2 linked regions of the Homo sapiens genome follow. Changing the gene in region 1 together with any one later gene gives a genetic interaction. Each region holds a gene or a part of one and is shown on either strand. Other genes may lie near its edges.

What was found.
Region 2: changes in KDM3A (region 1) and PRMT5 together harm fitness more than expected from each alone (negative genetic interaction), as found in Homo sapiens cells (one large-scale study listed by BioGRID).

The regions. Positions count from the first base shown.
Region 1 is NC_000002.12:86,465,371-86,468,870, reverse strand, and holds part of KDM3A (lysine-specific demethylase 3A), read right to left. Parts: intron 2,500-3,500; coding exon 1,988-2,499; intron 1-1,987. UniProt on the Homo sapiens protein: Histone demethylase that specifically demethylates 'Lys-9' of histone H3, thereby playing a central role in histone code.
Region 2 is NC_000014.9:22,923,203-22,926,376, reverse strand, and holds part of PRMT5 (protein arginine N-methyltransferase 5), read left to right. Parts: intron 1-80; coding exon 81-244; intron 245-1,336; coding exon 1,337-1,498; intron 1,499-1,667; coding exon 1,668-1,745; intron 1,746-1,839; coding exon 1,840-1,898; intron 1,899-1,935; exon of another isoform or gene 1,936-1,984; coding exon 1,985-2,107; intron 2,108-2,193; coding exon 2,194-2,369; intron 2,370-2,969; exon of another isoform or gene 2,970-3,174. UniProt on the Homo sapiens protein: Arginine methyltransferase that can both catalyze the formation of omega-N monomethylarginine (MMA) and symmetrical dimethylarginine (sDMA), with a preference for the formation of MMA.

The sequences.
Region 1 (3,500 bases):
AGAGCAACAGGTGCTACCATCAGTGATTCTCTGAATTCAAAGCCAAGTCAAGAGAAAAATGCAACGCCCACTTCCGAGGAGCCACGTATCTATCTGAACGGAAAAAAAGGCAGCTGTTTGACTCCAGTTTGCTTTTGTTTTCTAGACCCCAAGTGGAAGAAAGGAGCAGAAAAGTTTTCCAAGCCTTCTGTACTAACATGCAGTACTAGTGGACACAGCTCAGAAGTCCCGGTAGGCTTCTGATCACACTCTCACACCTCAACCAAAAAAAAAAAGTCACAGTAGATAGCAGGATGTGCTACTCCAGGATGTAAGTTTTTCACTTCTTTTAAAATCCATTAGATGGGGAATAGCTACATAACATATTAAATGAGACAAAGCTGGACTCCGTAACTCACTTGTGTATCTATCATGTGCTTATTGCACTAGAATCTTTACTGTTTCGTCACATAATATTAAATTTGCTTCAAAAACTAGCTGTGTGTGAGAGCTGATGATTCAAAAACAACAAATAGAACAAGGATATGGTTATGAATATGTACTTTCTTTTGAGTGTTACCTAATTTCTGAGAACAGGATAATCTTATGCAATTAATTTTATGCAAATTAACAGCTATATTAACTTAAGCCTCAATGAAGAAGCTAGGTTAGAAGTATTGCTAGGCAAAGAAAGTTCTTTCTATTCTTCCAATGCTATACTAAAAAGATTCGCAAGTCAAATCCAGCCATCTTGCCCTCTAATTTCACAGAGGCCTGCAGTTAAAAAGATAGTGTAGATATATTCATTTTTACTGATCCAAATAAATAAATTGTTTTCGTAGGTTGTTTTCGTTTGTTTGTTTTTTGAGCCAAGCTCTCACTCTGTTGCCCAGGCTAGAGTACAGTGGTACAATCATAACTCACCGCAGCCTCCAACTCCTGGGGTCAAGCAACCCCCCTGCCTCAGCTTCTCCAGTAGCTAGGAATAACAGGTGTGCCCCACCATGCCTGGCTGATTTTTAAAAAAATTTTTTGTGGAGATGGGGTCTCACTATGTTGCCCAGGCTGGTCTCAAACTCCTGGTCTGAAGCAATCCTCCCACAGTGGTCTCCCAAAGTATTAGGATTACAGGTGTTAGCTACTATGCCCAGCCTAAAACATTAACAAAATCCATATCAATTTCCCACATAGCTAACAGTGATCAAAAGGCATCTTTAAATTCTAATAGCTCTAAACCTTTTGACATGCTGAAAACATTTTGTTCTTCTAACTCTAGTAACAGAGCTTCTGATAACTACCACCATTATAATGCATCCTCAAACTTCATATAAGTAGCATCAAGTACAACGTACCAATTTCCCCATAAGAAGAGTAGTTTTAAATTGTGGGTGCAGCAGGACCTCCCCTTAAGCAAAGAGACTCTTCCTGGTAGTTCAGCCCTATCCGTAACATCTTTAACCCAAGTCCTTTTTCCAGAAATGATACAATTCTGCATCTTTTCTAAAATTTCAAATCTTAGCTACCTGTCACAGATCACCTCTTCCTACTCCAACCTGGATGTAACAGAAAGATCAGTGACAAGCTGAAATAAAGTAAACACCAGATTACTTTAGATTTTGTTTCAAAATTTTCTTAACCTAAGAATTGGGAACCACCTAATTACCCACCTAATAGGAACCAGTTAAATCCTATGGTAAATGAACATAATGGAATCCTTGCTTTAAAATACTAATAGACACCTACACTAATTCACAGGGTAAAATTATTGGCATGAACCCATTTGTGTAATACAGTTTATCTGTATTTCTATATACATGAAACCAGGTACACCAAAATATTAACAGTAATCGTTTCTGAGATTTGGGAATTATACCTTCTTTCAACTTTTCTGACTGTATAAACTATTTCTACAAAGTCATTTTCACATAGTTTCTCATAGGACAAGAAAGAGATATATATATCTACCATTTCTTACCTTCTACCAATAAAGATATTGAGAAACACTCACCATTCTGGATTTTATTGTTGCTTCTTGAACAACAGCTTTCATTATCTACTTTTACTGAAGATTCCTTTAAATTCTGTGATCGGCAAGCTAAAGCTGAAGGTTCTACCTTTTTTCCTGAACAGTTATTAGGGCTATCACTATTGACACCTGCTTTCACTTCTGGTGCATTTGAAACATCCGATGGGGAAGGTGCATGTTCTAGGTGCTTCTGCAGTTCAGGAGGATTGGCAATTTCCAATTCTGCCTTAGAAGAAGCCTTTGTAGGTAAGCACTCCTTAGGAAGGCCAGTCAATGCTTGTGGAACAGACTCCAATCTGTTTTCCTGATCAGTGTTTGTCTTAGGCTGAGTACAGCTGCCTTTTGGCTCAGTCAGAATTTTCAAGTCTCCAGTTCCAATCTGAGAGGACTTTGAGAGCAACCCTGCTTTGCAGACATCTGGTTTTGTTCTCAGAGCTTCAGACTTTGTATTTAGACAGGAAGAAATTTCCTCTGGTAAACTTTGTTTATGACATCTGAAAAATATAATATAGAAAGCTAGCATCCAGGCCTCTTTTTATCTCTCCATTATCTTCCCCAAACAAACTGTTTGGTTCCCTAAGGTAACGAGTATGAAAGAAAAAAGAAAATTTCTCATATGTTACAGAATTTAGGATAGATTTCTGTGAGCTAGAGTTAAAAGTCATCAGTCAATGGTTCTGCAAAAATCATAAACACTCAGAAAAATACAACCCTAAATTATGTCTGCACGTTCTCAGAAATCTTTAACTTCTTACGTTAGTTCTACTTCTCACAGCACAATGAACCTTAGCTTTCCCTCAAAACAAAATATTGTATGAAACCAAAGAATATACTCAGCAGATAAGCTGGTTTATAAGTATCAAAACCAGAAGTCTGTGTAGGGGCAATTCCGAAAGTTTTCTTTCTTCTTTTTTTTTTTTTTTTTTTGTGTGTAAATTTCAGAGAAACCTCTGCTAAAACTCTTTCTTCTATAGTAAAGATTATGTTTGAATTTTAAAGATAAAACTCCATTCTTGCTACTTGCCAAGAGTCAAAAATTGAACCTCTAGTAAAGGTCAATGTGTCAAGATAAAAATTCTAAAATATATACGTATATAAAAAATGTTAGAAATCCCTTCAAAGATATTCACACAAAATCTAATTAAAAACGAACAATGGGCAAGGCACAAGGGCTCACACCTGTAATCCCAGGATTCTGGGAGGCCAAGATGAGAGGACTGCTAGAGGCCAGGAGTTCATGACCAGACTGGGCAAAATAGCAAGTCCCCCATCTCTACAAAAAAATTAAAAATTAGCCTGGTGTGGTGGCACGCGCCTGTAGTCCCAGCTACTTGGGAGGCTAAGGCAAGAGGATCAATTGAGCCCAGGAGTTCAAAGCTGCAGTAAACTTAAACTTTGACTGTACCACTGCAACTGCACTCCCTCCTGGGCAACAGAGCAAGATCCTGTCTCTAAAAAACCTCAAAAACTAAAAAAAAACTAACAAACTGGCAGC
Region 2 (3,174 bases), on another chromosome or scaffold:
GTAAACAGATTTTGCGCAAAGGAGCAAGGAAGGGTTTCTTGCCTGGCAGTGGTTGACAGTTTTTCTTTTGCCTCATGTAGCTCTTGAAATTGGGGCTGACCTCCCATCTAATCATGTCATTGATCGCTGGCTTGGGGAGCCCATCAAAGCAGCCATTCTCCCCACTAGCATTTTCCTGACCAATAAGAAGGGATTTCCTGTTCTTTCTAAGATGCACCAGAGGCTCATCTTCCGGCTCCTCAAGGTGAGTGGTAGGAGGGTTCTAAAGGTAGTCCAGCTATACATCTTGCCTTATTTACCTGTGTATGATCGTTTTTTCCTGTGAGGCTGACTCTTTTTCTTTGGTTTCTGGGGAGCAATTTCAGTGAAGTTGGGAATCTTGAGAACAAAAAGGTAAATGCCAGTAGTAGCCCTAGAAACCTTTCAAAACAAACCAAACCTCATGAGAACTTTGCAGAAGGTTTCATTTAGGAAGTTACAGCAAGGATCCATGAGGCTGTTTGGGTGTTGATACTTTCATGGCATAAGAGGGCTTTTTCTTTTTTCTTTTTTTTTTTGAGACAGGGTCTCACTCTGTTACCCAGACTGGAGTGCAGCCATACCATCTCAGCTCACCAGAACCTCTGCCTCCCAGGCTTAAGCGATTCTTCTGCTTTAGCCTCCTGAGTAGCTGGGATTATAGGAATGCACCACTACTGCCCGGCTAATTTTTGTATTTTCAGTAGAGACAGGTTTTATCATGTTGGCCAGGCTGGTCTTGAACGCCTGACCTCAAATGATCCACCCGCCTCGGCCTTCCAAAGTATTGGGATTACAGGCGTGGGCCACCACGCCCGGCCAAGGGGGCTTTTTATAAGTTTACTGAAGCCTCATGCTGCCTTTGTTGGTATTGGGACAGACGCTAGAGAACTGTTGGTCTGGGCCAGGTGCAGTGGCTCGCGCCTGTAATCCCAGGACTTTGGGAGGCTGAGGCGGATGGATCATCTGAGGTCAGGAGTTTGAGACCAGCCTGTCCAACATGGTGAAACCCCGTCTCTACTAAAAATACAAAAATTAGCCAAGCATGGTGGCACGCACCTGTAGTCCCAGCTACTTGGGAGGCTGAGGCAGGAGAATTGCTTGAACCTGGGAGGTGGAGGTTGCAAGTGAGCCAAGATCACGCCATTGCACTCCAGCCTGGGCAATAGAGCGAGACTCCATCTTTTTTTTTAAAAAAAAAAAAAAAGAGAACTGTTGATCTGGGCCTTATTTTACACTAGGGCTCTTTGGCCATATACCATAATATTCCAGAATCTTGGTTTGAGGGCTGTGTCTGATGGTCTGACTTTTCTCACAGTTGGAGGTGCAGTTCATCATCACAGGCACCAACCACCACTCAGAGAAGGAGTTCTGCTCCTACCTCCAATACCTGGAATACTTAAGCCAGAACCGTCCTCCACCTAATGCCTATGAACTCTTTGCCAAGGGCTATGAAGACTATCTGCAGTCCCCGCTTCAGGTGGGTCTGGAGTGCACTTAGAGGAGGAAGGTGGGATGGAAAATGTTTCTTGAGAATATATGCCTCCAAATCTTACTAAAACTCAGAAAGCAGTGGAAAGTTTTTGATATTTTAGTGCATTGTCCTTTGCCAGAAACTGGCTAACTTTGTCCTTTTCCTCATTCATCAGCCACTGATGGACAATCTGGAATCTCAGACATATGAAGTGTTTGAAAAGGACCCCATCAAATACTCTCAGTACCAGCAGGTACTGTGTGGTGCCCAGGGTGAGGAAAGCACAGGGCCAGCATGACCTGGGGAGGATGGGATTACAACCATGGGATATTCTCTCCTCCCTCCAGGCCATCTATAAATGTCTGCTAGACCGAGTACCAGAAGAGGAGAAGGATACCAATGTCCAGTGAGTGCTTTCCCCTCAATCTCAGGGACTTGCATACCTATATCTGTATATGCCAAGTCTGCTTGACTCTTCCCTTTCTTTCTTAGGGTACTGATGGTGCTGGGAGCAGGACGGGGACCCCTGGTGAACGCTTCCCTGCGGGCAGCCAAGCAGGCCGACCGGCGGATAAAGCTGTATGCTGTGGAGAAAAACCCAAATGCCGTGGTGACGTGAGTAGCAACCTGCTTGCTGGGAAGTTAGTCCTCATTGCCAAATTTCCTTAACATCTCTCCTTACCTTATTGTCTCTGTTTCAGGCTAGAGAACTGGCAGTTTGAAGAATGGGGAAGCCAAGTGACCGTAGTCTCATCAGACATGAGGGAATGGGTGGCTCCAGAGAAAGCAGACATCATTGTCAGTGAGCTTCTGGGCTCATTTGCTGACAATGAATTGTCGCCTGAGTGCCTGGATGGAGCCCAGCACTTCCTAAAAGGTGCCCCCAGGTTGGGGTGTAGGTGGAGGGTGATGATGGGTGAGACAGCAACCTGGGAGGAGGGTACAGGGTTTAGGGGAAAGTGGGTTGGACCTGGGTCACATCATATGAGTTTGAGAGCCACTGCTTCACTGCCTCTGTGCCCCTAGCAAATGAAGTCATCTCTCCAAACCTTAGTGTTCATATTTGTAAAATGAAGGGAGTGGGCTGGGCGCGGTGGCTCATGCCTGTAATTGCAGCACTTTGGGAGGCCAAGGCGGGAGGTCAGGAGTTTGAGACCAGCCTGGGCAACATGGCGAAACCCCATCACTACTAAAAATACAAAAATTAGCCAGGCGTGGCGGTGCACGCCTGTAATCCCAGCTACTCGGGAGGCTGAGGCGCGAGAATCACTTGAACCTGGGAGGAGAAGGTTGCAGTGAGCTGAGATTGTGCCACTGCACTCCAGCCTGGGCAACAGAGCGAGACTCCATCTCAAATAAATAAATAAATAAATAAATAAATAAATAAATATGACATATGTACCCTGAGCTTAGCTTTCATCAGGAACTTTTGTGGGACTTTGTGACCCCACAAAAGTTAAGAACCACCAGATTAGACTATCTTGGGTTCTTTCAGTTTTAATCTGTGTGACTCTGTAAATTAACCTAGTAGTGGAATCCTCCATGACAGTAGTTGGAAGCAGGCTGGCTTAGTAATGTGACAACATGCATTTGTCTCTTTCTTCCATGCCCATGCCAACGTTGGTTGGTTTTGACATGGGAGGTTTGATCCTTCTGATCCTTCAGTTAGTACAGACATACCA